Homo sapiens: one gene and its partners. The protein of the gene in region 3 binds, or shares a complex with, the protein of the main gene of each other region. Each region holds a gene or a part of one and is shown on either strand. Other genes may lie near its edges.

Region 1 (7,544 bases), on a different chromosome or scaffold from region 3:
AAATGTCACCGCCATAGAATTTTTTTCAATGTAGCATTTTCCAGCCTACTTCAATATCTTTTTAAAGAAATCTACCCGAAGGCCAGGCGCGGTGGCTCACACTTGTAATCCCAGAACTTTCGGAGGCCGAGGCGGGCAGAACACGAGGTCAGGAGATTGAGCCCATCCTGGCTAACACGGTGAAACCCCATCTCTACTAAAAATACAAAAAATTAGCCGGGTGTGGTGGTGGGCACCTGTAGTCCCAGCTACTTGGGAGGCTGAGGCAGGATAATGGCGTGAACCCGGAAGGCAGAGCTTGCAGTGAGCCAACATCACGCCACTGCACTCCAGCCTGGGCGACAGAGAAAGACTCCATATCAAAAAAAAAAAAAAAAAAAAAAGAAAAAAAAAATTCTGCTGGAAATAGACATCAAAGTCAGGAGAAGAAAAAAACATTTGGGGAATGTTTGTTACCAAAGTGTACAGAAATGGTTATATTCGCACTCTGTAAAGAAACACAGTGACTTACTGCTACTTCCTCCCTCTAGTGGGAGTTTTGGAGAATCAACTCAGGGTCTAATTGCTCATATTTTCAAAGTATCACAAGGCTAGGACCACATCTATTTTATTTACTTCTGTACCTTCTATACATAGAACACAGTTGATATTCAATATGTACTTATTAAATGAATGAATAAGGAAATTGGGGCTGGAAGCAGTAGCTCACGCCTGTAATCCCAGCACTTTGGGAAGCTGAAGAGGGAGGATTGCTTCAGCCCAGGAGTTCGAGACCAGCCTGGGCAACATGGAGAAACCCCATCTCTATAAAAAAGTTAAAAAGAAAAAAAACTAGCTGGGTATGGTAGCATATGCCTGTACTCCCAGCTACTCAGGAGGCTGAGGCAGGAGGAGATTGCTTGAGACCAGGAGGTTGAGGCTGCAGTGAGCCATGATCACGCCACTGCACTGGGCGACAGAGCGAGACCCTGTCTCAAAAAACAAACAAAAAAACAAAAACAAACAAAAACAGAAATTGGAAAATTTCCGGCTCTTTAGGGAAGTGACAGCAATGCTTGATATAGTATAAATTCATTAAATCCTTCAAAGCAATATAGAGCAGATTGGCATAACATATATTAGTCATACATCTTGATCTAAGAGAATAAGCTTAGAAATGTATTTATTCTTACCAGGCAGAGAATTAATCTGTCCAGTGTAACAATGTTATACTTCCATACCATGTCATTAAGAATTTCAATGCATTTATTGAGTTGCTGACCCCCTGCTGATGTAGAAAACTCATATACCAGGAAATCTGCAAATGTCCTCACATGGGCTACCAAGGCCCTGGCTCCAATTCTCTCTAATACTCTGGAAGGCAGAGAGTAAAACATAAACTCCATTGTTGTATGGATACAACAATTTGCCAAATGGAATGCAAATTAGGTTTTTGACTTACCTATAGCCAATCTGATTAATATGATCTGTTTCCAAGAGCATTTTCCAGAGAAGACAAAGAAAGAGAGGAGGGGAGCCCTGCATAGAGAAGTGGGTAATAATGTCGTTTTCGTTGCTCATTGACTTCCACTTCCTATACTCCTCCTCCACATTTTTTTTCAGATTAAAACGGCTTTCCTGAGGCACATTATTTTGTTTGAAGAATGCCTAAAAAGAGGATTAGAAGTTTATTTCATTGGTTATAGTAGAAAGAGCACTGGATATGGAGTTAATAAACCAGTTCTAGACTTGATTCTGACACTAATAAACTCTAGGTCACCTTGAGCAACTCAGCAATTAAGGCCTGAATTTCTGTGTCTGGAAAATACATAAGCTTGACTAGATTATCTCCAAGATTCCTTTTCCTAGATTTCCTAAATGGAAATTCTAAGTAAGCCTGAATTCAAAGCTTCTTCAATCATCTGTTGATACTTCCGCCAATCTTAAAAAGAAAAAAAAGAATGAAGTGTCTCTACCCTTTGGCTACATATGTTAGTGTCTTTGAGGAAAATCCATTGCACTAGCCCAGTGATTCTCAGAGTGTGGTCCCAACACCAGCGGTATCAGCATCATCTGGGTCTTACAAGAAATGCAAAATTCTCAGACCTTATCCCAGATTTACTGAATCAGAAGCTCTGTGGCTGGGGGCCCAGCCAACTGCAGCTTAGCAAGCCCTCCAGGTGATTTGGTAAGTTTAAAAACCAAATGCTCTAGCCCTACCAGGAGTTATGAAAAATGGATGTTCATCATGCCTAACATTTTTTCTGAAAAGGAGAAGACAGATGAGGTTTGCCTTTCTCCTTATTAGAAAAGCCAGGTTTACAGTTTTTCTGTGATTAAGAAAAAAATTCAGTGAAGTGTCATATTACGCACACTCTGTGAAGCTCCATTACGTTATACTTCTCCCCATTTCAGTTCTATGAGAGAGAAAAAAGTTTTCAGGTACTATGTTAATTTTCATGAGATTCTAAAACCATTAACTATTTTTTTCTCTTTTTCAATTTTTTTCACTTTTATTTTTTTCCTCTTTCTACTCTTCCTCCCCTTAAAACTGTTAACTAAGATGAAACCATAATAATTAAATTTTTAGAAACATGTCCAGTACCAGAGTAGGACACAGAACAACTTGAGAGATTTTGTAAGTAATGACTTTTTTTTTTTTTTCTACAGACAGGGTCTGGCTCTGTCACCCAGGCTGTGGTACAGTGGTGTGACCATAGTTCCTTGTGAACCTGAATTCCTGGGCTCAAGCCATCCCCCTTGCCTCAGCCTCTCAAGCAGTTAAGACTAGAGGCTTGTGCCACCATGCCCAGCCCCTAAATATTTTTTAAAATAAATAAAAGCTAATTTTATTCAGAAGTCACCAAGACTCACTCTAGAACACCATTGTGAATGGGAAGAAGGATTTCATGTGCATTCAATAAGTAATTCAAGACCAAATTACCTGTAGTGGGCCTGGAAAACAGCTCAGGGTGTGTGAAGCCCAATTATGAGGAGTGAAACTCATGATGGTCTGAAGTATGTCTTTACACCAAGTTCCCTGAATTGAATCAGAGCCTGTAAAAAAATCTAAACATAAACAAATAGATGTAATCCAGATATAAATGATTATATCCACAATTCATAAAAGATTATAGCGAAAATAATAATTATGTACACTGAGAATTTCACTGCAGTGCATTCACTGCTTAACTAGTTATATTCAGCTTAGAACCTAAATTTGCTTAGTTTATGAATGATCTGGATGATCACATTAGAAAATATGAGAACAGTTTATGAAAAGATGACAAAAGACATTTGAAATCTCTTTTTTTGAGGTTACAGAGTACCAGCGATAACAGTAATACAAGCCCATCACTACTGTTCATTTACTTTGACACTGATTTAGTAGTACTTTATTCGGCCAAGGGAACAGAATAAAGAAAGATATCTTTTTTGGTGAGTGAAATAATTACATAATGCATGTATAAATCTCAGAATTGAAGAGGGTTCTTTATGTAAAACAAAATAATTTACATAAACGTATTTGAGGTTGCTAAAACCAATAACTATCTCTTTAAAACATCAGTTCTCAAGTGTGGTCTGTAGACCTCTTGGGGATTCCCCAATAGCCCTTCAAAGATTCAATGAGGTCAAATAATAATAAAAAGATATCAGGCTTTTTCACTTGGTATGAGCACTGACGGTACAAAAGCAATGGTGGTAAAACTGCTGGTCCTAAGCACAAATCAAACAGTGGTGCCAGACTAGATGAAAAGGCTTTGTATTCTCCAGCACATGCACTCAGTGAAAGAAAAGTGCCAGTGTCAATCTCGACACCTATTTTTAACATCATATGTAACAAAAGGGGAAGCATATGCCTAGTGTTCCAAGTTTGATGGGTGTCTTGAGGAAAAACACTTGTGCACTTGTGTGACTGACTGAGCACTGAGTTAAATCAGCTGCTTTTTTTTTTTTGAATTCCAATTTTACTTGAAAGAACGTCTGACAGAAAACTATAGCTAGCTAGACTTACGTATTTAGCAGACATTTTCTTGAAAATTAACAAAATGAGCTTGTCACTTTAAGGAAAACAAATGATAGTAACTTTTTCCAATGATAAAATTTGACCTTTCAAGTAAAAATTGAAATTTTGGAAAACCTGTATCTACCACGACATGATAGCATTCCAAAACTTAGATTTTTCTAATAAACTTTGCAGTGATATTAACAAATGTAATTTTCTGATACTGTATAAACAAAATGTCAACGTTTGCTAGATCTACGTAACTCAGTGAACCAGTATTTTCAAAATGAATAATTCATGAAGTTACAAAACATGCATGGATTTAAAAATCCACTAAATGTATAAAACAGATGTACAGATTATAATGTAACAAAGTACATGAAGTTTACTGGGGGTTTTGGATTCCATATTGCAGCTAACCTTTAAGCAACTATCATTTTTCCATGTGATGTCAAAGAACATTCCCAATTATCTGAAAAAGCTATTAAAATACTCCTCTCTTTCCAACCTCATCTGTGTGAGGCCACATTTTTCACTTACTTCAACTAAAACTTCAATGGATTAAATGTCTAAGCAGATGAGAATCCAAACTATGTCTTCCTTTACACCAGATATTAGAGAAGCAAAAATGTCAAACAATGGCACCTCTTCTCACTAAAGTTTTGCTTTAGAAAATATACTTTTTTTATAACATCATATATTAACATGTAATGTTTATTATTGCTATTTAAAAACAAATTAATAAATATTTTTAAACTTCTTAATTTTAATATCTAATATAATAAATATCCATAGATATAATCCATATAAACAGAAACTCTTTGGGAATTTCAATTTTGTTTTTAAGAGTGTAAAGCAGTCCTGAGACCAAAAAGCTTAAAGTATTACTACTTTAAAATTATGGATAGCTGAAAACGATGCTCAACGCAGTTATTAATAGAATGATGGTACACAAAAGAGCTTCCATAAATGAGTGAAATAGTGAAGATATCAAAACAACAGGCTTTTTTCAAACAAATGAAAAGTATCTTTTTAGTATGTTACAACTATAGTAATTAGTAGAATCATGGCACACTTTAATTCATCTGTTGTTGTTTGTAGTCACATATTCACCGTACCTGTTACATGAGTTGCTCTAGCCAAGGTCAATATCAAGGCTCGGTTCAGTTCTTCAGATTCTGCTGAGAGCACTGTTTTGGGATCACTAAGGAAGCGTGTAAACTGCGGTTGTACCTCTGAGCTACCTAATGCTGTTATAAGCCTGAGAGCAGTGCTCTCGACACTGAAAATTGGGAGAATAAAAAGAAATGTAAAAAAATTTCAGAATTATGGAATTAAATCTAAGGTTAATTACAATGGAAAAACATGCAATCTATGACTATCCCTTCTTTAAAAAAACACTTTTGTGTGAGAATAAATGTTGCTTAATTTGTTTAAAAAACCTAATGTGTCCAATTTTATAGTGAAAATCGTGACTTTTTACACATTTGAAAAAGATGGCTTGTCGCCTATAGGACTAAAAAATTTCACCTGGAGATACTGCATTTCAAAAATTATATTTTTCTATCTAAAATATATTTTAATGTAAAGCAAAATCAATGTGACATGATACTTTAACCATAATCTGAAGTATACTTAAAACCAGCATTCTAAAGGGCTAAGTTACAACATAATAATAAATACCCTGGAAGTACTAATTCTCAGTCCAAAGATCCTGAAGGAAGGACTCAACTATCTTAATCAGTTTCTATTTAAAAAGCTGGACTCTGCTCCTATACTGGAAACAAAATACTTTAGAAGCAGAGAAGTTTTATGACAGATGAATAATAATAAAAAAAAAAACTATAAGGTAAAGGTAAAGGATTAAGAACCTCATCTCCAAGAAAGTTTCTAATAAATCTTAAGGAAAGATGGTCTTCAATGAGCTCACCAAAGATGGAGCTGGTTCTGGTTTGTTTGTGCAACTGCAGCCAAAGTATGAAGATGACTCAGGAGCTGAACTCTGTAATGAGGCTGAATATGATGCATCCGGTAGCTAAACATCTCAAGGAGTGTGTGTAAGATCCCCCATGCATGTGATTTGAAAACAGTTGGCAAAAGCTGACCTGGAGGAAAAAGACAATTTAAGGTACCAATTATTAAAGGCTATGCATGAAAAGATATTTGAAGAAAGTCACATTGAGTAAAATATAAAGATTTGATTGTGAAAATACACACGCCCACACACATATATATTCTCCATATTTTCTTATTTTCTACTTTAACAGTAAGGAAAAATTCAGATCCTAACTATAATATCAAGTTTGCTTTTTTCCTGGGATTTGGCAATTGATAATCATGTTTATCTGGAAAAATAAAATGAGACAAGATATGAAAAAACATTAATCTTCTCAATTCTGATATCTTTTATTTTTAGACAATTAATGTTCCATACCTTTTGAAGTATGAGGTTCACTTTTTAATACAAAAAATTGTATTATACCTGCCCTTGTTTCCTCCTACCCCCAAGAAAGTTTTGTTCAACAATCAGTTATCTAAGAAGAGTTATTGTGGTTAAAATTAAGACTATGCTGTATTCGTGAAAAGCTGGAATTACCATGAATCAGAAAAACACTTCTATATCAGAAAGTATCTATTATTTTAGAACTATATAATAAATGAGACATTATAATGTATCTTCTGCAAGGTAGGAAAATTCCTTCTTTATTTCCAGTCAGACTTCGTATGCACTGGAGGACAGCATTGCTGCCTCAGGCAGAATCCATTTGCATGAGGACAGGGACCAGGTCTATCCTGCTCACTGCATCCCAGGCACCTAGCACATTAACCTTTTCTTACCACTTTACTTAAAAATGCAACAAACCCCCCAACCCTCACACTTCCTATTCCTTTTTGCTTTATTTTTCTCTATAACATGTATCATCTGACATATTGTATATTTCATTTATTTAATGTCCTCCTCCATAAGCTCCATCATGGTGGTGACTTGTTCTCTGCTGTGTCCCCAGGACCTAGAAAAGTAACTTTAGAGTTAATGAATGGGTTAATAGTTATAAACACCAGAAAGTCCTGTCTTACTGATAAATCCTTTGATGCCCAAAGACTCTATTTCCATATAGACCAATAAACGACTGTAAGTTTCCACTAGGGCTGGAGCCAAGGCCACACTGGACTTTGCATGAGCAAGTTTTATCACCCTGGTTGCAATGCTGTGAATAAGGCTGAGGAGAAAAAAAGGGAAGAAAATAAAAATCCATATTTTTGACATAAACATAGGGGCTACTCTACTTAGAAGTAACTTAGTATAAATCTGAACTTAAATGATTCAAATGAAGTTGATTCATTTAATGTGTTTAAGCTGTGCAGGACACTTGGTAAGGATGCACTGCACAATCTGAGACTCATTCCGTTTCTGTGGCGCTTTCAATATGCATACGGATCCCCCTGCTCATGGAAAAACAAACTTTGGATTCAACTCATAAGAGCATGCTTGAGGGATTTTGGTCACTCAAATGATGCATCAAAATACATTTGGGAAATTAAATAACTTTTGTCACAG
Region 2 (7,544 bases), about 16 Mb from region 3:
TGCCCCTGCCAAGTAACGGGTGGAGGCTGGGGAGGCTGCTCAACAGGACACCCCCATCCCAGAGGCTGCTCCAGCCCCCGATGTCTGTGGTGCCTACGGGGAGACCCTGGTCTAGAGAGAATGAATGAATGAGCTGAAGCATTTTGGGAGGCTGAGGCTGGAGGATTCCTGGAGGCTGGGAGTTGGAGAGCCTGTGCAACGTAGGACACCCCATCTCTACAAAAAATAGAAACAACTAAAAACAAAAATGAAACGCTTGGCACACAGCGACGGCCCAAGGAGGGAGAGGGCGAGGTCTCGCCATCACTAGCGCTGTCACTGGCTACGGATCCCAGCCACGCTGGGGTTTAGCCTCGCAGCCCCCGCCTGGGTCTCACGCGTTTCTCGGCAGGCTGTGCCGTGAATGGGATTTTTTTTTTCCCATTTTATCTTCGTATTGGTTTCTGATGGCACAGAGGAAAACAAGTGAAGCTCAGAGGGCTGGTCCCACGTGCAGCTGCCGGCTGAGCTCGTTAGATCTGAGGTCCTTCGAGGACACTCTGGGATTGCAGGCACATAACCACACCACTGCAAGGGACCCTTCTGGCACGTGGGCCTCCGTATCCGCTCCCTCCTCTCCTTCCGACGGGCGGGTCTCTGTGTGTTCATCTTCTGACCGTGTTTGCTGAGGCCTCACACCACAGGGCCACCGGGTGTGCATCCTGGTACCCATCACATTCTGAGAGGATGGCTTAGAAAGATACCTCCAGACTGGGAACACTGGAGAGGGGAGCCGTCCAGGGGGGATCAGGCCTTACCTGTGGGGCTTAACGTGTTACAGAAGAAACTTCCCAGGTAAGGAAGGAAACTGCTTCTCTGAGGTGCAGCTTTCCTGGACGGGCCTCTGGGAGCACACCCCACACGCAGCCTCACCTGCCACAGGCTACCTGCCCCTCTTGCCCTCCGCCTGCCATAGAGCCCCCAACCTGCCGCAGGGAAACCCCTCCAGCTGCCACAACCCCCACATCTGCCGTGGGGACCTCTACAACTGCTGCAGAGACCTCCTCCACCCTCCAAGGGAACTCCCTCCCTGCTGCTGGCACTTTACTGACCACGGGGCCCCTGCCTGCCACAGGGACAGCCCCACCTGGCACGGGACCACCTGCCACGGGGCCCCCACCTGCCACGGGGCCCCACCTGCCACGGGGCCCCCACCTGCCACAGGGCCCCCACCTGCCACGGGGCCCCACCTGCCACGGGCCCCCACCTGCTGCAGGGCAGCGGTCTGGCGCGTGTACTCCTCGTGCAGCTTCTCCACCAGGCTCTGTACCATACTGGGCTGCACGTGCAGCAGGATGTCCCACCAGTCGTAGCCGGTCACCATGCAGTACTCCAGCAGGAAGAGCAGGTGCCGCAGCGCCAGCCCCACCTCCAGCGGGTGGCCCATGGAAGGTGAGAGGCGGAGCACGCTCAGCTGCCAGAGACAGAGCCCAAGGAGAGCCCGGTGAGATGGGGCTGCGCCCTCAGCCGGGAGAGGAATGGGGCCCTGGGGCTGCGGCACGTGTGTGGATCTGTGTGCGCGCACGCCCGTGTGTGGGCCTGTGTGCGCGCATGTGTCTGTAGCGTCTGTACCTTTCTGTCAGGGTCATGCACAATGCCTCTGGGAACAGGGAAGGAAACCTCCCTGAGCCCCGACTGCACTGGATGCCGAGCCAGGCTTACACTCGTCTGCTTTACCTGAGGAGTCTACCCCGTGAAAGGCGGTCCTCTCAACAGCTCCTAGTTACGAAGCTCCTAATACGTGCTGTGAGCCACCCCACTGACCTCGCTCAACAAGACGAACCCATCACACAGACAAGGCAGCGCAGGCAGGGGCTGGCGAGGGGCTTGCACCTGTGGTCCCTTCCCCCGGGGGCGCCTCCCTCTGGCACCCTCCCAGCCCCAGCCCCAGCCCCAGACCCACGTGCCCCAGCAGCTCGCCTTCCCCTGGTTGTCAATGCCCACCAGCCCCTGCCCCACGTGCCCCAGCAGCTCACCTTCCCCTGGTTGTCAATGCCCACCAGCCCCAGCCCCAGCCCCAGCCCCAGCCCCACGTGCCCCAGCAGCTCGCCTTCCCGTGGTTGTCAATGCCCACCAAGCCCAGCCCCACATGCCCCAGCAGCTCGCCTTCCCCTGGTTGTCAATGCCCACCAGCCCCAGCCCCACGTGCCCCAGCAGCTCACCTTCCCGTGGTTGTCAATGCCCACCAGCCCCAGCCCCAGCCCCAGCCCCACGTGCCCCAGCAGCTCACCTTTCCGTGGTTGTCAACGCCCACCAGCCCCAGCCCCAGCCCCACGTGCCCCAGCAGCTCGCCTTCCCCTGGCTGTCAATGCCCCCCAGCCCCAGCCCCAGCGCCACGTGCCCCAGCAACTCACCTTCCCCTGGTTGTCAATGCTCAGCAGCTCACCTTCCCGTGGTTGTCAATGCCCACCGAGCCCAGCCCCACGTGCCCCAGCAGCTCACCTTCCCCTGGTTGTCAATGCCCACCAGCCCCAGCCCCAGCCCCAGCCCCACGGGCCCCAGCAGCTCGCCTTCCCCTGGTTGTCAATGCCCACCAGCCCCAGCCCCACGTGCCCCAGCAGCTCACCTTCCCGTGGTTGTCAATGCCCACCAGCCCCAGCCCCAGCCCCAGCCCCACGTGCCCCAGCAGCTCACCTTTCCCTGGTTGTCAATGTCCACCAGCCCCAGCCCCGGCCCCGGCCCCGGCCCCACGTGCCCCAGCAGCTCACCTTCCCCTGGCTGTCAATGCCCACCAGCCCCAGCCCCACGTGCCCCAGCAGCTCACCTTCCCGTGGTTGTCAATGCCCACCAGCCCCAGCCCCAGCCCCACATGCCCCAGCAGCTCACCTTCCCGTGGTTGTCAACGCCCACCAGCCACAACCCCAGCCCCACGTGCCCCAGCAGCTCACCTTCCCCTGGTTGTCAATGCCCAACAGCCCCAACCCCACGTGCCCCAGCAGCTCGCCTTCCCCTGGTTGTCAATCCCCACCAGGGCCAGCCCCACGTGCCCCAGCAGCTCCCCTTCCCCTGGTTGTCAATGCCCACCAGCCCCAGCCCCACGTGCCCCAGCAGCTCCCCTTCCCCTGGTTGTCAATGCCCACCAGCCCCAGCCCCAGCCCCAGCCCCACGTGCCCCAGCAGCTCACCTTTCCCTGGTTGTCAATGTCCACCAGCCCCGGCCCCGGCCCCGGCCCCGGCCCCGGCCGCAGCTCCACGTGCCCCAGCAGCTCACCTTCCCCTGGCTATCAATGCCCACCAGCCCCAGCCCCAGCCCCACATGTCCCAGCAGCTCACCTTCCCCCGGTTGTCAATGCCCACCAGCCCCAGCCCCAGCCCCACGTGCCCCAGCAGCTCGCCTTCCCCTGGTTGTCAATACCCCCCAGCCCCAGCCCCAGCCCCAGCCCCACGTGCCCCAGCAGCTCGCCTTCCCCTGGTTGTCAATGCCCAGCAGCTCACCTTCCCATGGTTGTCAATGCCCACCAAGCCGAGCCCCACATGCCCCAGCAGCTCGCCTTCCTCTGGTTGTCAATGCCCAGCAGCTCACCTTCCCATGGTTGTCAATGCCCACCAAGCCCAGCCCCACGTGCCCCAGCAGCTCACCTTCCCCTGGTTGTCAATGCCCACCAGCCCCAGCCGCACATGCCCCAGCAGCTCACCTTTCCCTGGTTGTCAATGCCCACCAACCCCAGCCCCACGTGCCCCAGCAGCTCGCCTTCCCCTGGTTGTCAATGCCCACCAGCCCCAGCCCCACGTGCCCCAGCAGCTCGCCTTTCCCTGGTTGTCAATGCCTACCAGGGCCACGCCCCAGCAGCTCGCCTTCCCCTGGTTGTCAATGCCCAGCAGCTCACCTTCCCGTGGTTGTCAATGCCCCCCAAGCCCAGCCCCACGTGCCCCAGCAGCTCACGTTCCCCTGGTTGTCAATGCCCACCAGCCCCAGCCCCACGTGCCCCAGCAGCTCGCCTTCCCCTGGTTGTCAATGCCCAGCAGCTCGCCTTCCCCTGGTTGTCAATGCCCACCAGCCCCAGCCCCACGTGCCCCAGCAGCTCGCCTTCCCCTGGCTGTCAATCCCCACCAGGGCCAGCCCCACGTGCCCCAGCAGCTCACCTTCCCCTGGTTGTCAATGCCCAGCAGCTCGCCTTCCCCTGGTTGTCAATGCCCACCAGCCCCGGCCCCACGTGCCCCAGCAGCTCACCTTCCCGTGGCTGTCAATCCCCACCAGGGCCAGTGACGTCCACGATAGCTGCATAGCCTTTAAGTGGACGGCGGGGCCCGCGGTGCGGGGGCGCTTCATGGCCGGCTCATCCACAGGCCTCGGGGCCGCGGAGCTGTAGAAGACGGCCATGGTCTGCAGTGAGAGCCGGTGCACGATGTGGACGCTGCCGTCGTGGAAGGCCAGGGCCAGCCCTGTGGGGCACAGGCACTGCTTAGACATGGGCAGGGCCCAGGACACGCCCGCCGGGGGAGGGGCCTCCTGCTCTGCAGGGTGTGGAGAGCCGGGGCTGCCCATCCAGGGGGTCAGCCCCCGCCAATCGGCATCCAGCGCCCGTGCCCCCAGCCACTCTTTCTTTAGTTACACAGTCCCTGAGCACCAGGGGAGCAGGAGCCAGCAGCCTTGGCCACACTGCTCCCAGCCCCTCCCCGCCCCTCCCAGCTGGGCCCATGTCCTGGCTGACACGCCCCTCAAGGAGCGCAGGGGAGGGGGGCACTACAGGTGGGGGACCAAGGGTTGGGGCTCCTGGCGTCCCAAAGAGAGGCATCTTAGGGTGGTGGGCTGGGGCTGTCACTCACACTGGGGTCTGCCATTGTACGAGGGCCGGGGGGAGGTGGGGTCCAGAGCCCAAAGCTCATGGAAAAGAGAATATGAAAGGAGTCCCTGCAGTAGAGAGGCTGCAAAGCCGGGCGCGGTGGCTCACGCCTGTAATCCTAGCACTTTGGGAGGCTGAGGCGGGCAGATTGCCTGAGCTCAGGGGTTCGAGACCAGCCTGGGCAACACCGGTGAAACCCCGTCTCTACTAAAATACAAAAAATTAGCCGGGCGTGGCAGCACGCGCCTGTAGTCCCAGCTACTCGGGAGGCTGAGGCAGGAAGGAGAATCGCTTGAACCCAGGAGGCGGAGGTTGCAGTGAGCCGAGATCACACCACTGCACTCCAGCCTGGGCAACAGAATGAGACTCCAACTCAAAAAAAAAAAGAAAAAAAAAAATAGAGCCTGGAAAATGGAGCATAAACCAAGGGTTTTGGAGCAGGGAACTGCATCCCCTCAACCTCTCTGCAGGCTCTGAGGAACAGCCCTGAGCCCCGAGCGGGTTTTGATAAATGCTCTTTCCAGGGAACCAGGGAAGAACGGGAGCTGGGGGAAGAAAGGGCCTGAGCTAGGGCCGACTTGTCCACATTTTACAGCTGAGCAAATAGGGTAGGCACTGAAGAGTGTGCAGACTCACTCATGGGCACGGATGCCACGGTTTGAGCTCAGGACCACATTATGGCTGCTGCAGCACAGAGAGGACACATGCCGCCTACCCAGGAAGGAGTTCCACCAAGTTCCCCAGGCTCCCTTGTTGATTTGCAATGACTCTTTACATATTAAAGAACACTGGATCTGTCTGCCAGCCTCACAGATCCCGAAAGATGAGATCTGCCTCCTAATTGGGAACCCATCAGAACCCAGAAGGCTGAGCTCCTACAGCCCCATGGCCTGTGCTCAGAGCCCACGTCCTCTGGTGTGAGCTCCCACGACCCCGTGGCCTGTGCTCAGGGCCCAACTCCCCTGGTGTGAACTGAGGCCCCGCGTGGCTGCCGCTGGCTCCACCGTACCGAGGCCAGGGTAGAACTGTGTGTCGCTGGCCACCTTGAGGTCGGTGTTGGTGAGCGAGATGGGCAGCTTGGGCAGCGCCACGGCCGACACACGGTCCAGATCGTTGGTGGCCGATAGGATCCGCCATTTGAGAATTGTGGGCTGTTTGTCGCCAACTGAAAAATCAGGGGCAGGAAAACAGGAAGGCAATGGAGTAAAGACAGGCTGAGACAGCCGCAGGAGTCCAGCATGGCCTGGTGTGCAACCTGCCCAGGGCCCTTCCCAGGTCTCATGCCGCCCTGCTCCCATGCCCAGAAGACCAGGCCCGGCCAATCCGAGCGCTTCGTGCCTCGGCCACTCATTGGTTCCAGGATGGGCACGTGACCCAAGGTGGGCCCTGGGATTTCATGGAAACCTGTGGGCCGGCACCATCTCACCCCCGATGGGGCAGACAGTGGGGAGACGGCGCCACCTCAGACCTGCAGCCATGCAAACCCTAACACTCGCTCGGCCTTAGCCAGCTCAGCCGGGATTCCCATCCCTCCTCATCTACAATTCCAATAAAGCCATGCGGGATGGTCGCACCCACAGATCCGCTGCCTGACAGCCCCTGCGTGAAGACGCAGCTCCTCCCAACAGGGCAGAGACTTCTGGGAATCTCAGGCCAAGCCTTAGCAAATGTGACATGGCCGGGCACAGCAGCTCACATCTGCCACCCCAAGACTTTGGGAAGCCAACGCCAGAGGATGGCTTGAGTCCAGGAGTTCAAGACCAGCCTGGACAACACAGCAAGACCCCATTCTCTACAAAAAAAACACAGTAAACATTAGCTGTGTGTGGTGGTGATGCACGCCTGCACACGCCTGTAGTCCCAGCTACTCAGGAGGCTGAGGTAGGATTGCTCGAGCCCAGGAAGATGAGGCTGCAGTGAGCCAAGATCACGCCACTGCACTCCAGCCTGGGCAACACAGCAAGAGCCTAGCTCAAAAACAAAAAACAAAAACAGTGGCCCAGAGAGCACGTGTGGGGGGTCCTGCTGTGGCTGCATGTGGGACACGGAGGGCAGCTGGAGCCGGCCTGCTGGAGCATGTGCGGCCAGTGGACAGGCCACGCCACCTCGGCTGCTAACCGCAGACACGTGGGAACCAGGAGAGCGCAGCTGAGGCAGCCACAGAAACAGAAACAGTGCAGGGCTGCTGGCCTGAGCTGCTCAGTTTGGGGCTGGCTTGTTACTCGGCTGAAGCTGACTACCACGCAGCTGCTCTGTGCCACCCGCATCATGAGGTCTCTGCCCCGGACGGGCCATCACGGTCACAGAGCCTTGACCTCCTGCAAACCCGTATAGGGGTCCTGTGAGCAGCATTCCCTGGGGGGAAACAGGCCCAGAGAGTGGCTGAGACGCCCAGAGGGCACACAGTGGTCAGGGGTGGCTGGCCCTCATGGAATTGAGCCTCTCATAGGAAAGACAGGAAACTCAACGCCCCAGCGCCGGGGGAGGCAGCTGCCATGACGACCACACCCCCAGCTAGTGGCCAGGGTACCCTCACAGCACGATTTACATCCCCTCCTCCATCCAACTGACGGCTGCGGTCAGCATTCCTAAATGAGGGGGGACTTGAGGCAGGGAGAAGCTAAGCTGCTAAGTGGGGATGTGGGGCAGTGGGTGAAGAGCTGGGCATGGTAGGAACCGAAGCCTGGCATGGTGGGCACGTGGGGCGGTGCGTGAAGAGCTG
Region 3 (7,544 bases):
CCGCGTGACTCCCGCCCCCTCCCTCCCGCCTGGGCCGGACTCCCCGAGTTCCCAGCGCAGGAGGCAGCTGGGCCCCGGCCACCTGCCCACCTGCCTGCCCGCCCACCCGGCTTCTGCAAGATGGGAATGCACTTTGTGGCTGACAGGCCGGTCAGTCCAAGCAGACATAAGGCAGAATGTTCAAGCGCCCGTCGTCGCCGTGCGGATCGAGCGATATGCACTGCGTCCAGTCATACCAGTTACCCTGTGTGTCCTGACACCCGTTCACCCCCGGCCACTGGCTGGCCTGGATTCTGTCGAGATCGTCCTGTGTGACCTCCCGGGTCAGACCAGGGAGGTCCGTGGGCGGGCTTTGAGGCACCAGCACATGCAGCTGCCTGGCCCCTTGCCGGGTGCTCTCCTCCTGCTTCAGGTACTCAGACATGAAGTGGTGAGCCCCTGGGGTCTGCGCGCCCGATGATGAGAGCAGGCTGCTCTGCCGGCTCAGGTAGGACTGGATGATCTCGTTGCGTGACAGCTCCTTCCAGTTCGTCTGTTCGAAGGGGCTCTGGAGGCTGGCCTTGGCCTCCTGCTTGTCCAGCTCTGTCCTGGACTGCTGCTCCATGTGCACAGGGCTGTCTGCCCGCACTGGCTCTTTCTGGGTCAGAGGTTTGATCTGTCTCGTCATGGGGTCAAAGGTGAGCTTCCGCTCTTTTAACCGGACAGGCTTGACGCCCGCCTCAGCCACCTGCCCGTCCAAGTTAACCGTATAGTCTCGAGGTCGGTACCTCTTCTTCTTTTTACTGTCCGAGCCCCCTGAGGAGGCAGCATCACTGTCCGCCTTGGAGGAGTCTGGGGAAAAGCCTGCCCGGGACAGGAGGGGCTCGGCTGGGGACAGCCCTGCCTTGCAGCCCGGCCCCGCCAGCCGCTGGTGGCTCTCAGGCTGCTCAAGCCAGCACACTGGGCTTTCCGCACTGGGCAGCAGCTCGAGCCGCCGTACGGGGGGTGTGGACGGCTGTGCCAGTGGAAGCGGTGACGGCACCTGTGTGGCATCGAGTGCCTGGGGCCGCGGTGAGGGGCTGGGCACGGAGCCCTTGGGTGCATACAAGCTCTGCTGCCGGGCAAAGGAGCCCTCATGCCGTGAGTTCCGAGGACTGAAAGAGCAGCGAGGGGGTCCCTTGGGATGGGGAGGCCCCGGAGTCTCGTCCACCCTGTCCAGCTGCTGCAGCACCGAAGCCTTTGGCTGCAAGCAGGGTCCAGGGGGCTTGCCCAGGCCCGGGGAGCTGGTGTGCGGTCGCACGGCGTTGACGGGGATCTTGCCACTGTGCTTGTCATTCTCGTCACGCTCCAGGCGGCTGCCCTCTGGGCCTGCATGCCCACTGCCATCCAGGGAGCTGGCGAAGCTCTCTGGACTCCCACTGATCCCGTTGGTGGGGAGGGGGGATGAGTTGGGGACCAGGGGGTCGTGGCTAGCTTTGGAGACCTTGGGTGGCGGCCCTGGGTGGCCGAGGTCACGCTGGTCACCCCGGCGCTTGCGGCTGCCCAGCCTGTCCAGCCGCTGCCCGGGCAGCCTCTGGAGGTCATTGCGGCTCTTCAGGTCATGGATGCTCCTGGGTGGGCCAGCCGCCCCCACCTCCGGCCGGCAGTTGTGTGCGCCCCCGTTGGCAGAGCCGGTGGCCCCCGCCAGCCCCCGCAGCGCCGCCTCATGCTGGTGTGCCGGCTCGATGAGCTTCTGCCAGCTCCGCAGCAGCTTCTTGGCCCGCTTGGCGAGCTCCTCGTTCTTGGTTTTCTTGCGGACGTCGTTGATGAGCTTCCCAAGTCGTGTTTCCTACAACCAGAGGGAGATGATGACATACTTTCGGGACAGGAACTTCTCCATGAGCTGAGCCAGAAATGGTGGGAAGTGGCCCTGACAGTGAAATGACCCGGTTCCCACTGAGCCCTAAACTGCCAGCTTCCCTGACACAAAACTTCTGGGGATTTCCGGTCCTTTGTGACAATATAAATTCTCAAACCTAGTTCCCAGACCTTCAGGGTCCCAGGTGGCTTCTCAGCAGTGCTGTCACCCAGGCTCCTGGTGTCAGGGGGCTGTGGACCATCAAGGCCACTGTAAGGACACTGCCAGAGAGGCTTCCTGGGTGAGAGGGTGCTGTGGCCGAGGCGACAGCACAGAGGGTCCGCTTCAAGTGGAGGGTTGGGGATGGTGCCTCTCACTGGAGCCTCCTCCAAGCACACCTCTCCTGATGTCCCCACGTGCCCACGAAGTGTGCTGGGCATGTAGGATGGGAGTAACACCACTTGGTCTCTGCAGTGCCCGTGGGAGAGCAAGATCGCGAGGCACGAGCTGTGAGGGCACACCGCCTCTCTTGGTCCTCCGAAGCAAAGACACTGATGCTCCCAGAAGCTGCGGAAGGACCTGGTTGGTACCATCCCCTGCCCCCCGTTCTGCCCTCCCAAATGCTGGGGTCTGGGATACTCACCTCAAGTGCCTCTTTGGTAATAGGGTATTTCTCCAGGCTGGAGATGACTTCCAGCACCGCCACCATGTTCCGGATCTGTGGAAATAAAAAGCCATTTGTCAGGTCCCTGTCCTTCTCCACTGGGAGGCTGGAACACCCTGCCCCAGCCTGCTCCAGTCTCTCCCCAACCCCAGAGCAAGAGGAGCCAGCAGCACTGAAGCCCCCACTCCATGTCGTCTCCTACCTGCTCCCTGGGCCAACCTGGCACCCAGTGCTCATCCTCACCTGCCGTCTGACCTCCTCCAGTGTGTGGTGTGCGGGCTGCCCCAAGCCCTCCAGTGTACATGGTACATACCCACCCACCTGCTGAAACCCAGGATGCCTGTGGAACAAGAGCTGCTCCTGATACTTAAGATGACCTCTACTCTGCCATCTGATGGGAGTGGGAGAGGAGACACGGAAGAATTCATCGAATAAAATCCACAAAGCTTAAAAGATCAATACACAGGCCAGGCGCGGTGGCTGACACCTGTAATCCCAGCACTTTGGGAGGCTGACGAAGGCGGATCAGAAGGTCAGGAGTTTGAGACCAGCCTGGCCAACACAGTGAAACCCCATCTCTATTAAAAATACAAAAATTAGTTGGGTGTGCTGGCATGCGCCTGTAGTTCCAGCTACTTGGGAGGCTGAGGCACGAGAACCACTTGAACCCGGGAGGCGGAGGGTGTAGTGAGCTGAGACCACACCACTGCACTCCAGCCTGGGTGACAGAGCAAGACTCCGTGTAAAAAATAATAATAATAATAATAATGATAAACCAGTCAATCTGAATCCAAAGACACCATAAAGAGAGCAGAAAGTCACAAAGTGGGAGAAGGCATAGGCCACAGGCCCCCAAGGAGCTGTATCTGGAACACAGAATGCCTGTACAGCAGTACAGCTGACCAGGAGCCCGGCGTAGACTGGCCACAAGACAGGAACAGGCACACGGCAATGAAATGTCAGTGCTGATGCTCAGCCTCTCAGCTTTATCGATAATCAGGAAAACTCAAACTGAACCCACAAATGGATACATGATACACGTGCCCCACTGACAACACTAGGTACTTCGGGGGATACAGCTGACTTTGGGGACTGCTGGGCTTTGTCTGGCAGAGTGAAGCATGAACACATCCCATGACCAAGTAATCCCTCCCTTTTAGGATCTTGCTAGGAGCCACACCTTGTTCTAAGCACTTCCCACACATTACTGACTCCCTTAATTGTTACAACAAGAATTCCTACCACTCAACCACCACCTCCAGCAACTACAGGTTTCTGGTGGGCTGGCTAGCGGGTGGGAGCCCAGGGGCCCTGAGGAAACCACAGTGAGTAGATTACTCAACTCCCCCCCACCCCAACATGATAAAGGAGTTAAGCGGGCACATGATACAAATTAAAACAGCATAAAAGGGCACACAAGGAAATGGGCATCTCTGACCCAGCCACTGTAGCATTTCCTTGCATTTTTTTCCAAAAATATCCCTTGTGTATATAGGCGTATACATCCACACTTATCACATATTTCAAAACCAAACTGACAGTGGTTCTTGCCTTTTCTGACTTAATGTCAGCAATGTCCAGCCTCAAACAGAGCCCCTCATTTGGCTCACCATCCCTTCCAGAGTGGGGAAGGCCCGACTTGAATGCTGTGGGACACTTAGGCACTTTCCGTCCGCCATTACAAAATAAGGCTGCAACCGACGGCAGTGACAGACCTGACTCTGAGCTAGTGCACAGACAGCCATGGAGGAGCTGGGGCTCCACATCCATGCAGGGTGGTCACCTCACCCCCAGGGAGGCTGCTCTATTCCATTCCCACCAGGCCACATCCTTGCCAAGACTGCGTGGCAAGAGTTTCCGTAACACATGATTGTAAACTTAGCATCTTACACAGCACACATTTATCATCTTAGGCTCTAGGGCTCAGAAATCAGGTCTGAGTCTCACTGGGCTGGGATCCTCTCTAGAGGATCCATTTCCTGCTCCTTCAGGTGTTAGCAGAGTTCAGCTCTTATTTTGTTTTTTTTTTTGAGATGAAGTTTCACTCTTGTCGCCCAGGCTGGAGTGCAATGGCACGATCTCGGCTCACTGCAACCTCCGTCTCCTGGGTTCAAGCAATTCTCCTGCCTCAGCCTCCCGAGTAGCTGAGATTATAGGCACCCGCCACCACGCCCAGCTAATTTTTGTATTTTTTTTTAGTAGGGACAGGGTTTCACCATGTTGAAGGCTGGTCTTGAACTCCTGACCTCAGGTGATCTGCCCTCCTCGGCCTCCCAAAGTGCTGGGATTACAAGCGTGAGCCACTGCACCCGGCCCAGAGTTCAGCTCTTTACACTACAGGAATGAGGCCCATTTTCTTGCTGGTTGTCATCCGAAGCCATTCCCAGCTTCTGGAGGGCACTGCATCCAGCTCACACCCCCTCCCCTTATGCTCAAAGCCAGCTACAGGCTGAGTCCTCACCCGGCATCTCTCTGACCCAGCCAGGATAGGTGCCATCTCTAAGGACTCCCTGACTAGGCAGGGCCTGCCCAGATGATCTCGGATCACCTCCCCATCTCCAGGCTGTTCCCTTAGTCACATCTGTCATGTACGGTACCATGTGCCCAGGCTCCAGGACTAGAATGTGGACGTCCTTGAGGGCTGTTAATTCTGCTGGCCTCATGGATTCTGGCTTTTCTACTCTTCTGCCCCACTTCCAGTGGGAGGCAGCCACTGCCACTCCCTCCCTTCCCGTGTTGTCTCCTCTGGGTGTAAAGTTGCAGAGCCACGACAGCAGTCCCCGCAGAACTCCCACAAAGCTGCCCTGCCAATGGGCCCATTTGCTCTTTGGCAACAACGGCCTTGCCTTGCAATGTTCTCCATTCAGGGCTCCAAATGACCCTGAAAACCCTGCTTCAAGCTGTGTCATGGTGGGGGTGGACGGGTGATATGAGGGGAGATACAGTCCTGTCCGCACTCCTCGTGCAATGGGCAGGGATCAGTGCAGGGGAAGACTGTGCGATGAGGAGGCCAGTCCCAGACAGACAGCAAGGCCAACCACTCCCTGCCCCAGGCACTCCAGCACCGACTCAGTCCCTGGGCTTGCCACATGGCTTCACCTCCACCCTGCTGACCTCACCCTGGTATATTTGGAGCCCTGGTTCCCCACATACTCCTGAAGCAGCAGTCCTTGCAGAGCAGAACACTGCCCAGACCCAGCTAGCCTGGTGGCACAAAGTGTCCTTGTCCTTGGGCAGACACCATCCTGCTGCCAGACAAGAGGGAGGAGACAGAACACCTGGGCAACCCCAGGGTCTGGTACTGAGCTGGTGCCCCAGAAATCACCGCTGAACTAACAGCCAGTCCCAAGAGTCTCCTGGAAACTGTGTGGGAGCTGGGGACACCAGGCGAAGGTGTGAGGGCCCTGTGACTGTGTATCCTTACCCTTGGCCCCTCCCCTGCCTTATGAGCCACGCTTAAGCGTGTGCAGAGAGGCCTTCAGCCTCTAGGAGCCCCAAGGGAAATGCTACAGCCTTGGCAGTCCCCTTTCTGTCCCCACCGTGTGAGCTGCTCACCTGAGGAGTAGAGGAGCCCGCCTGCTCTACCTGTAAGGTGCTAGAAACCCACAGTCCTACGCCGTAAACAGATGAACTCTGCCAACACCTGAAGGGGCAGAAAATGGATCCTCCAGAGAGGAGCGCAGCTCGCTGCTTCCTGGATCCCAGCCCGGTGAGACTGGAGCTGACTTCTGAGCCCTAGAGCCTGAGATGATAAATGTGTGTTGTGTAAGACACAGAGAGAGGGTGAGTGTCCAGTGCGGCCACTCCCTGGAGCCAGCAGAAGGCAGTCAGTGATGTCAGCAGAGCTAAGGATGGGGGCAAGGTGAGACTGCCCTGCCCTGCGACCTCTGGGGCATTGATGTCAAGCAGTCTGAACACTGTGTGGGGAGCACCACCTGGGCATCCAGACACAGGCCTCCCAGGCCCAGGAGGCAGACACTGAGCAATGCAGCGAGGAATCCCTGCAAAGGGCCTGGCCCCGACCCCAGGCACACTGAGCCAGAAGGCTCCACAGAGCCTCTTTATAGATGGCCACAGTCTGTCCCAAAGAACACTTAGCACCCAATTGGTGCTGGTCCCATAGGAGCAAAATAGGAGCTGGCTTCTGACCCTGGCCCTGGGGACCCTGCCTTAACAACCAACTGACCCCCCACCCAGGAGTGGCAGGTCTCCCACTCTCATGGAGGTGGCCCTCTGTGAGTGACAGAGACACCAGGACTCGTATGTGGCTGAGGGGAGGCTCCCGCTCTGACTCCAGGCCTGCTAAGTCCAGCATGAACCCTCAGGGCAGGGAGGCAGGCCACAGGGGGAGGGCAGCACCTAAGGTGGCCTCCCAGGGAGGTCAAAAAAGGATGTGGCAGAACGAGCTGTGTCCACCTGGGCTGGAGACCGACTTCCATGCTGGAAAGCAGAAAAGAGCTGGAGAAGGATGGGCAGGGAGCTGGCCAGACAGCACCAAAGCCCTGCGGCAGGGGAGAGGCCATGGGTAAGGACACCGGGAGGAAAAACAGACCCAAAAGACCCAAGGTGGCTCCTTCACAACCTGTCTTCTATCCCCCTTAGCGACTGCCCCCACAGACCACCTGCCCTTGCCCTGTTTCTGGGATGCCCTTGGCACCTGTCCATCTATCTGGGGAAGTACACTAGATCCTAATCTCAGCACAGACACAGTTTGACTCCACATGGGGAGCCGCTCCAGGCGATGGCCTCAAAAGATGGCTTTAAGGCAGCTCTTCAGGCTTGCCAGGGCCATGTCTGTGGCCCGATGGCCAATTGCAGCCTCTTGCTGTCAGGAATAGCCTGGCACATCTGAGGCCCCCTCCTCCTTTGGATTCTCCCTTGGGATTTGTTCCCAGTCCAAAAAAACCTCTCAAAACACCTGCCAAGTTGCTTTCCCAAAGGGGCAGGAATCCCGTCAGGAACTGTAGCCTCTCACTTCTCCACTAGGGACCCCTCAATAGATGCAGATGGGTCTGAACTTCCTTAACCATCAACGAAGACAGGCGTTGCCTCCCCTTTCTACCA
Region 4 (6,339 bases), on a different chromosome or scaffold from region 3:
CATGTTAAGTCACTCTTAAAAAACCAGAAAGTAGGTTGACTCATAATTCCTTAAAACATTTGCATCAACAGTTGTTTTCTGTTTAATTCATAATTCTGGTTAAAAAGTAAGGGCATCTCTTCTAGTTCAGTCATGCCCCTGGGATCCTAAATTAAAGAGTTGAGGGGAAGAAGAGGGCACTGGGCTTGCTGTCTCCTGTTTTAGTCTGTGGAGCTTCCTGGTATTTGGGGTTTAAGTCTCTTGAGCCAAGTATGTTAGTGATTCATCTTACAGCAAATATATTGATTCTTTCATAAAACTTGTTATAACTAGATGATAGTTTCTGAATTGCGTAATTTCTGTGTTCAAAGATGAGTGTCATTCAAGGCAGAACTCATTCCACTCCTAATAACGTTTTATAGAAGTAGTGAAGATTTGACTGTTTTTCTCTTACAGCCTCAAAAACTGGTAGAATCTGAGTGTCTTCAGGCCAACCTGGTGGAAATGTTGTTCTCTGAAGATTAAGATTTTAGGATGGCAATCATGTCTTGATGTCCTGATTTGTTCTAGTATCAATAAACTGTATACTTGCTTTGAATTCATGTTAGCAATAAATGATGTTAAAAAAACTGGCATGTGTCTAAACAATAGAGTGCTATTAAAATGCCCATGAACCTTTAGTTTGCCTGTAATACATGGATATTTTTAAGATATAAAGAAGTCTTCAGAAATAGCAGTAAAGGCTCAAAGGAACGTATTCTTGAAGGTGACGGAAATACCTAAAAACTCCTAAAGGTGCAGAGCACACCTTCCAAATCTCTCAAAAGATCAGTATCTTTTATTTTAAGTTATCTCCATCTGCAAAGCAACTGATGATATTCCTGAAACCCCTTCTTTGATTTTGGAATGTAGAACCTAACCTCACCACTGAAGGAAAGCACATGACCTCTAATCTAGCCTCTGCTTAATTCAGGCAGTTTTGTTTTGTTTAATAAAAAACAGACTCCTGAGCACTAGAAGCAGTTTGTTTTGCAGCTGTCTCAATGTGCTTTACTTGGGATGAGGCAGGTGGCGGAGAGCGGCCGGAAAGACTCTATAACCCAGTTCTGGGAAGAACTCCAAGCTGGGAGTCAGTCACACTGACTCTACCACTTACTAGCTGTGTAACCACAGGCAAGTTACTCACCCCGTCCAAACCTCAGTTTTCTCTTCTATAAACAAGGTTCTTAGAATAAAATGAGAATTCAAGGAAGCACTTAACATAGCACCTGGTTTGTGGTACCTCCCAAATCAATGGTAGCTTTCCCAAATGAACACAAGTATTTGAGGCTCCTCATGTTTGTTCTAAAGTCAAGAGTCCAGTTAGTAACTAACCACTAGTTGTCCTGCCATGACTAGGTCAAGTGAGGCCACAGTGATTCAGTGATTCTTAAAGCCACCTTGCAAAGCAGGTAATACAGTTATTTCCTGTCCTGCAGAATTCAAGAACCTTTATGCAGTTCCTGTCCTATGATTTAAAGAGGTCAGTGACTCCGCTACTCTCACTACATCTTAGAGTAGAGTGGTAGAGTAGTTGATCTGAGACAGTAAGGTTCCAGGAGATGGTCTTGCCCTACTATATGTCAGGAACAGCTAGCCTTAGAATTCAGTATACTTGGTGGCCCACCCCTACCCCATGCCCCAGTGCCTTATTTGGTCTAAAGCACCTAACTTTTCCATTCTTAATCAGCTGATTATGCTAAATGCGTAAAAAAGAAAAACACCTTACAAATCCACAGGGAAATCAAAGAACAATTCAGGTTTAACAGAAATAGTCTATTAACAATAAAAAGTTGGATGAAAAAGCACACTAAAGGTTCTAGGGGCTACCATAATAAAGGTAGATAGGAAGAGTTTTCATTTTTTTTGTCTTCACTGTACAAAAGAAATACATTATATACATGTATTAAGTGCCTCGTTTGTATCCAGTTTTTCATTTTCCCGATGTGTTATTTTGCTGTTGCTGCTCTGCCAAGGCTTGCTGAAGGCGCATCCGCTTCCGGGAATAGTGCTGCCAATGTAGAATCTGCTGTTCATCAATAAATTTCGCACACTGAGCATTCACCAGCTCCTTTCGGAAGTGTTCATATTGGAGCAGCTCTAACATGTGTAAACACTGAGGGTACCTGGGTTTAAGTTTGTAAGTGAATGAACAACATAATTTAGGTAAATAATGCCAAGGTATAATTCAGTTATTCTCTTAAAAACGATCTTGTAGCCTACCATTTCTATAACAGTAACTTAGTACACTCTGGTAGCATAGGGTTTTTTCCCCGATTAGTCATCAAAGGTCAGTGTTCAATATTTTCGAAAATGAGAAGGTTTAAGTTCAGAAAGATTAAATTAACTTGCTCAAGACCACACAACACAGTAACTGGTAAGCAGAGTGAAAATTTAGGGACAAACCATGCTATTCCCTTCTAGCGGTTTCCAACGTGAAGAACATGAACATATTTTAGTAATTATGTGTTTAATTGATAGTTACTCATTTTTCCTTCAATAGGGATAAAAAGACAACTTTCATTTAAAAGTGAGTGTGAAAGAGGACTATGCGCATACATTGTACTCTTGTTGTCCACAGGGATATACCAATTCTGAAATTAGATATACTCTAGGATTGGACAAGCAAATATACTGTGGATAAGGACAGCCAAATTTCTGGCTATCAGAAAAGGAGTTATAGACATGGAAAGGAAAAAGGCTAGAATGAACCCTGTGTTACTGAGCTGGTATTGAAAACATCAGTATGTACTTACGGCTTTTAATATAGACATAGAATAAACATGTATATGTGTGTGCATGTATACACATACATACATATATATATAGTTCTTGAGCTTTGTGTACTGACAGGGCCTAGAAGCAATGACACTGTGGTACTAATGAACACACAATGACCAGACTGTGGTTTCCAAGGAGCAGGTTTCCTTGGAGAAAAGGGTGATTCAGGGATAAGACAGGAAAAGTACAAGATGAGCCTGGAACATTACGTAGTGCCAGAAGAAAAAGTGCTAAAAATTCCTGGGAGGATCAAAAGTATTCAGGAGCCAACTTGAAGGGCCTCCCAATGGCCAAATCTGGAATACTTAGCGCAAGAAAATACATAATTCTAATTCATAATTCTACTAAAAATAAGAATCCAAAAGTCCACACTAAATGGATGTAAATTTCTTTAATAAAATAATAGGAAACAAGGGAATATAATTCCTTACAATCGAATTCCAAACTAATAAATGCAGAATGATAGAATTAGAAAATCATCACAGTAAAAAATGTTTCAGGCAATTATCTTCAAAAGATGCTAAAACAGGCAAAATACATGTAATATGATATTTACATAGTCTCAAAGGATTTCCCTATAAGATACTTATTAAATACACAAGGAAAAATAGCAACTTAATATGGAGAAACCTAGACGGTACCACCCTCAACCAAGTTACCAAAATTTACGTCACCAGTAGTGGGACAAATAGACTTCATGTGACTGCAGATATATGAAGGATACAAATCATTTCTGTCATAGTCATGGAAAAGAAAAGACCACTGAGATGAAAGGAGACTAAGAAGACATGACAGCAAAATGCAACATACGGGCCTAGACTGGATCCTGCACTACATACAGCACACCAGCAGAACAACTGGCAAAATGTGAATGAGGTCTGTAGATTAGGTAATAATATTAATGTGCTGATTTTTGCTGATTGTAGTGTTACACATTTGGAATACGTGGGTGAACAAAATACAGGAATTATCTTTACTATTTTTCCAGCTATTTTGTAAGTGAAATTATTTCAAGTTGAAAAGACATAAAAGCTAACAGACAATTAAAATACATTAACATATAGGAAGTGTGGGGAAAAGAGATCAGATTGTTCCTGTGTCTACGTAGAAAAGGAAGACATAAGAAACTCCATTTTGATCTGTACTAAGAAAAATTGTTCTGCTTTGAGATGCTGTTAATCTGTAAATTTAGCCCCAACTCTGTGCCCCCAGAAACATGTGCTATATTGAATCAAGGTTTAATGGATTTAGGGCTGTGCAGGATGTGCCTTGTTAACAATATGTTTGCAGGCAGTATGCTTGGTAAAAGCCATCGCCATTCTCCATTCTCGATTAACCAGAGACACAATGCACTGCGGAAGGCCGCAGGGACCCCTGCCCAGAAAAGCCTGGGTATTGTCCAGGTTTCCCCCAACTGAGACAGCCTGAGATATGGCCTCGTGGGAAAGGAAAGACCTTACATCCCCCAGCCCGACACCTGTAAAGGGTCTGTGCTGAGGAGGAGTAGTGAAAGAGGGAGGCCTCTTTGCAGTTGAGATAAGATGAAGGCTTCTGTCTCCTGCTCGTCCCTGGGAATGGAATGTCTTAGTGTAAAGTCGACCATTCCCATTCGTTCTATTCTGAGATAGGAGAAAACCGCCCTGTGGCTGGAGGCGAGATATGCTGGCAGCAATACTGCTTTGTTGCTCTCTGCTAGTTAGATATTTGTGTAAAGTGAAACATAAATCTAGCCTATGTGCACATCCAGGCACAGTACCTTTCCTTGAACTTATTCATGATACAGATTCCTTTGCTCACGTTTCCCTGCTGACCTTCTCGCCACCTGTTGCCCTGCTACACTCGCCTCGCCAAGACAGTAAAAATAATGATCAATAAATACTGAAGGAACTCAGAGACCGGCACTGGTGCGGGTCCTCGCATGCTGAGTGTGCCGGTCCCCTGGGCCCACTGTTCTTTCTCTATACTTTGTGTCTTATTTCTTTTCTCATTCTTTCATCTCCACCTGACGAGAAATACCCACAGGTGTGGAGGGGCAGGCCCCCTTCAGGAAGTATGCAGATAAAGCCAAAGTTGCACAAGTGATATGCAAATGACTAAAGTGTGGAAAATAGGATACTACAGCAATGCTTCTAAAACTTTAATGTGTATATGGGTCACTTCTTAAAATGCAGATTGAATCCTTAGGCCTGGAGTGGGGCCTGAGCTCTGCATTTCTAAAAAGCTCCCAAATGAAACCAATGCTACTGATGTGAACACCACATTGAATAGAGGGCTTAATACCATGCTTCTAAGATAGTAACTTCCAAGACAGCAAAGATTTGCTATCCACACACTAAAAATACACAGTTGCTCTAATTGTTGGCTGCTTATGCTAGAATGCTCTATTCACACCTGCCCTGGCTAACTCCCTTTCATGACAGCATTAGTAGTTAAAATGACCAGGATGTTATGTTCCAGCCAGGTGGCCTTTAACAAGGTACTTAACCTCTCTAAGGTTCAGTTTCTTCAACTGTAAAATAATGTGACAACCAAGAGAATGGTCTCAAGTAGCATTTAGTCAATAACTAGAATTTAGACATGCAGTGATTATATCAGAATACCTTAGATGACAATAAAGAATCATACTCTGATAGGCTACAAGTCAACAAGATGAAATAGAAGCAGTATAAAAGGGAAGTTCTGCATTTGGTGTTTTTAAAAAGAAACAACATAGGGAGAACCCAACAGCATGATGAAAATAAGAACTGAAGGATTTTAGTTGACATAATGCTTCCAGCAAGTCAACAATGTGATCCTCTTCCCCACTCCCACCCCCAAAAGTAATATAAACTTAAGTTGAATTAACAGAGGTGTATGACCACATGAAGAAAAGAAAGGACCTCTGGCCCACTGTACTCTGACCACACCTGAAGGCCTGTGTTTAGTTCTTGGCTGAACTGCATAAAGTACAACTGCCAAATATCCAAAGGAGGGAACCTCAACTCATGAGAACTCTGGACACCATGGCACAATGGCAGAGGGTAGTTGAGAAAAATAGATGGAAGAGAGATGTTATAGTGGCACCTACTGGCTATCAATGAAGCAGGCCAAGTGGTAGAAAGTGTCTCTTCCACCAGGTGGAAAGCAGCTAGTAGTGACAGCTGCTCTCAGCTTCAGCCCAGTTGTTGACTTGGGAGAATTAAGATCTATGGTTACTAGATCTTCCAGATTTGAAAGAGTAGCTGGAAATCTGCATTTGTTATATACAACTTTCTGATCTTTAAATGTTGGCAAGTATTAAAAAAACTAAAATCTTCTGCAGACTGAATAAAACACCCAAAAGGGGCTAATTTGCAGTCTCTCTTGAATGTAAATATCTGGAAGGCTGTTGTCCTCAAGAGGGTATAGAATGGTTCTAGCTTCATCCAGGGACAAACAGACTGGGGCTACAAGGAGGTACATTATATCACAATATAAGGAAGAACTTTCTAATATCTGGCTAACAATCGAATCAGCTGTCCCTGACAGAGTAACACGGGCTCAATGGAAACCTCCAGAGTG

The links.
Region 1: MED26 (region 3) and MED23 share a complex: the UniProt entries of both Homo sapiens proteins name them as parts of the mediator complex.
Region 2: MED26 (region 3) and MED16 share a complex: the UniProt entries of both Homo sapiens proteins name them as parts of the mediator complex.
Region 4: MED26 (region 3) and MED31 share a complex: the UniProt entries of both Homo sapiens proteins name them as parts of the mediator complex.

What each region holds. Positions count from the first base shown.
Region 1 is NC_000006.12:131,597,115-131,604,658, forward strand, and holds part of MED23 (mediator of RNA polymerase II transcription subunit 23), read right to left. Parts: intron 7,207-7,544; coding exon 7,064-7,206; intron 6,091-7,063; coding exon 5,916-6,090; intron 5,268-5,915; coding exon 5,104-5,267; intron 3,049-5,103; coding exon 2,924-3,048; intron 2,397-2,923; coding exon of another isoform or gene 2,391-2,396; exon of another isoform or gene 2,353-2,390; intron 1,648-2,352; coding exon 1,442-1,647; intron 1,354-1,441; coding exon 1,173-1,353; intron 1-1,172. UniProt on the Homo sapiens protein: Required for transcriptional activation subsequent to the assembly of the pre-initiation complex. Component of the Mediator complex, a coactivator involved in the regulated transcription of nearly all RNA polymerase II-dependent genes.
Region 2 is NC_000019.10:875,728-883,271, forward strand, and holds part of MED16 (mediator of RNA polymerase II transcription subunit 16), read right to left. Parts: intron 5,988-7,544; coding exon 5,832-5,987; intron 4,422-5,831; coding exon 4,210-4,421; intron 1,454-4,209; coding exon 1,247-1,453; intron 1-1,246. UniProt on the Homo sapiens protein: Component of the Mediator complex, a coactivator involved in the regulated transcription of nearly all RNA polymerase II-dependent genes.
Region 3 is NC_000019.10:16,575,876-16,583,419, forward strand, and holds part of MED26 (mediator of RNA polymerase II transcription subunit 26), read right to left. Parts: intron 2,940-7,544; exon of another isoform or gene 2,535-2,939; coding exon 2,460-2,534; intron 2,399-2,459; exon of another isoform or gene 2,291-2,398; intron 1,808-2,290; coding exon 152-1,807; 3' UTR 1-151. UniProt on the Homo sapiens protein: Component of the Mediator complex, a coactivator involved in the regulated transcription of nearly all RNA polymerase II-dependent genes.
Region 4 is NC_000017.11:6,642,516-6,648,854, forward strand, and holds the end of MED31 (mediator of RNA polymerase II transcription subunit 31), read right to left. Parts: intron 2,145-6,339; coding exon 1,952-2,144; 3' UTR 796-1,951; downstream 1-795. Other genes in the region: TXNDC17 (thioredoxin domain-containing protein 17), read left to right, coding at 436-504. UniProt on the Homo sapiens protein: Component of the Mediator complex, a coactivator involved in the regulated transcription of nearly all RNA polymerase II-dependent genes.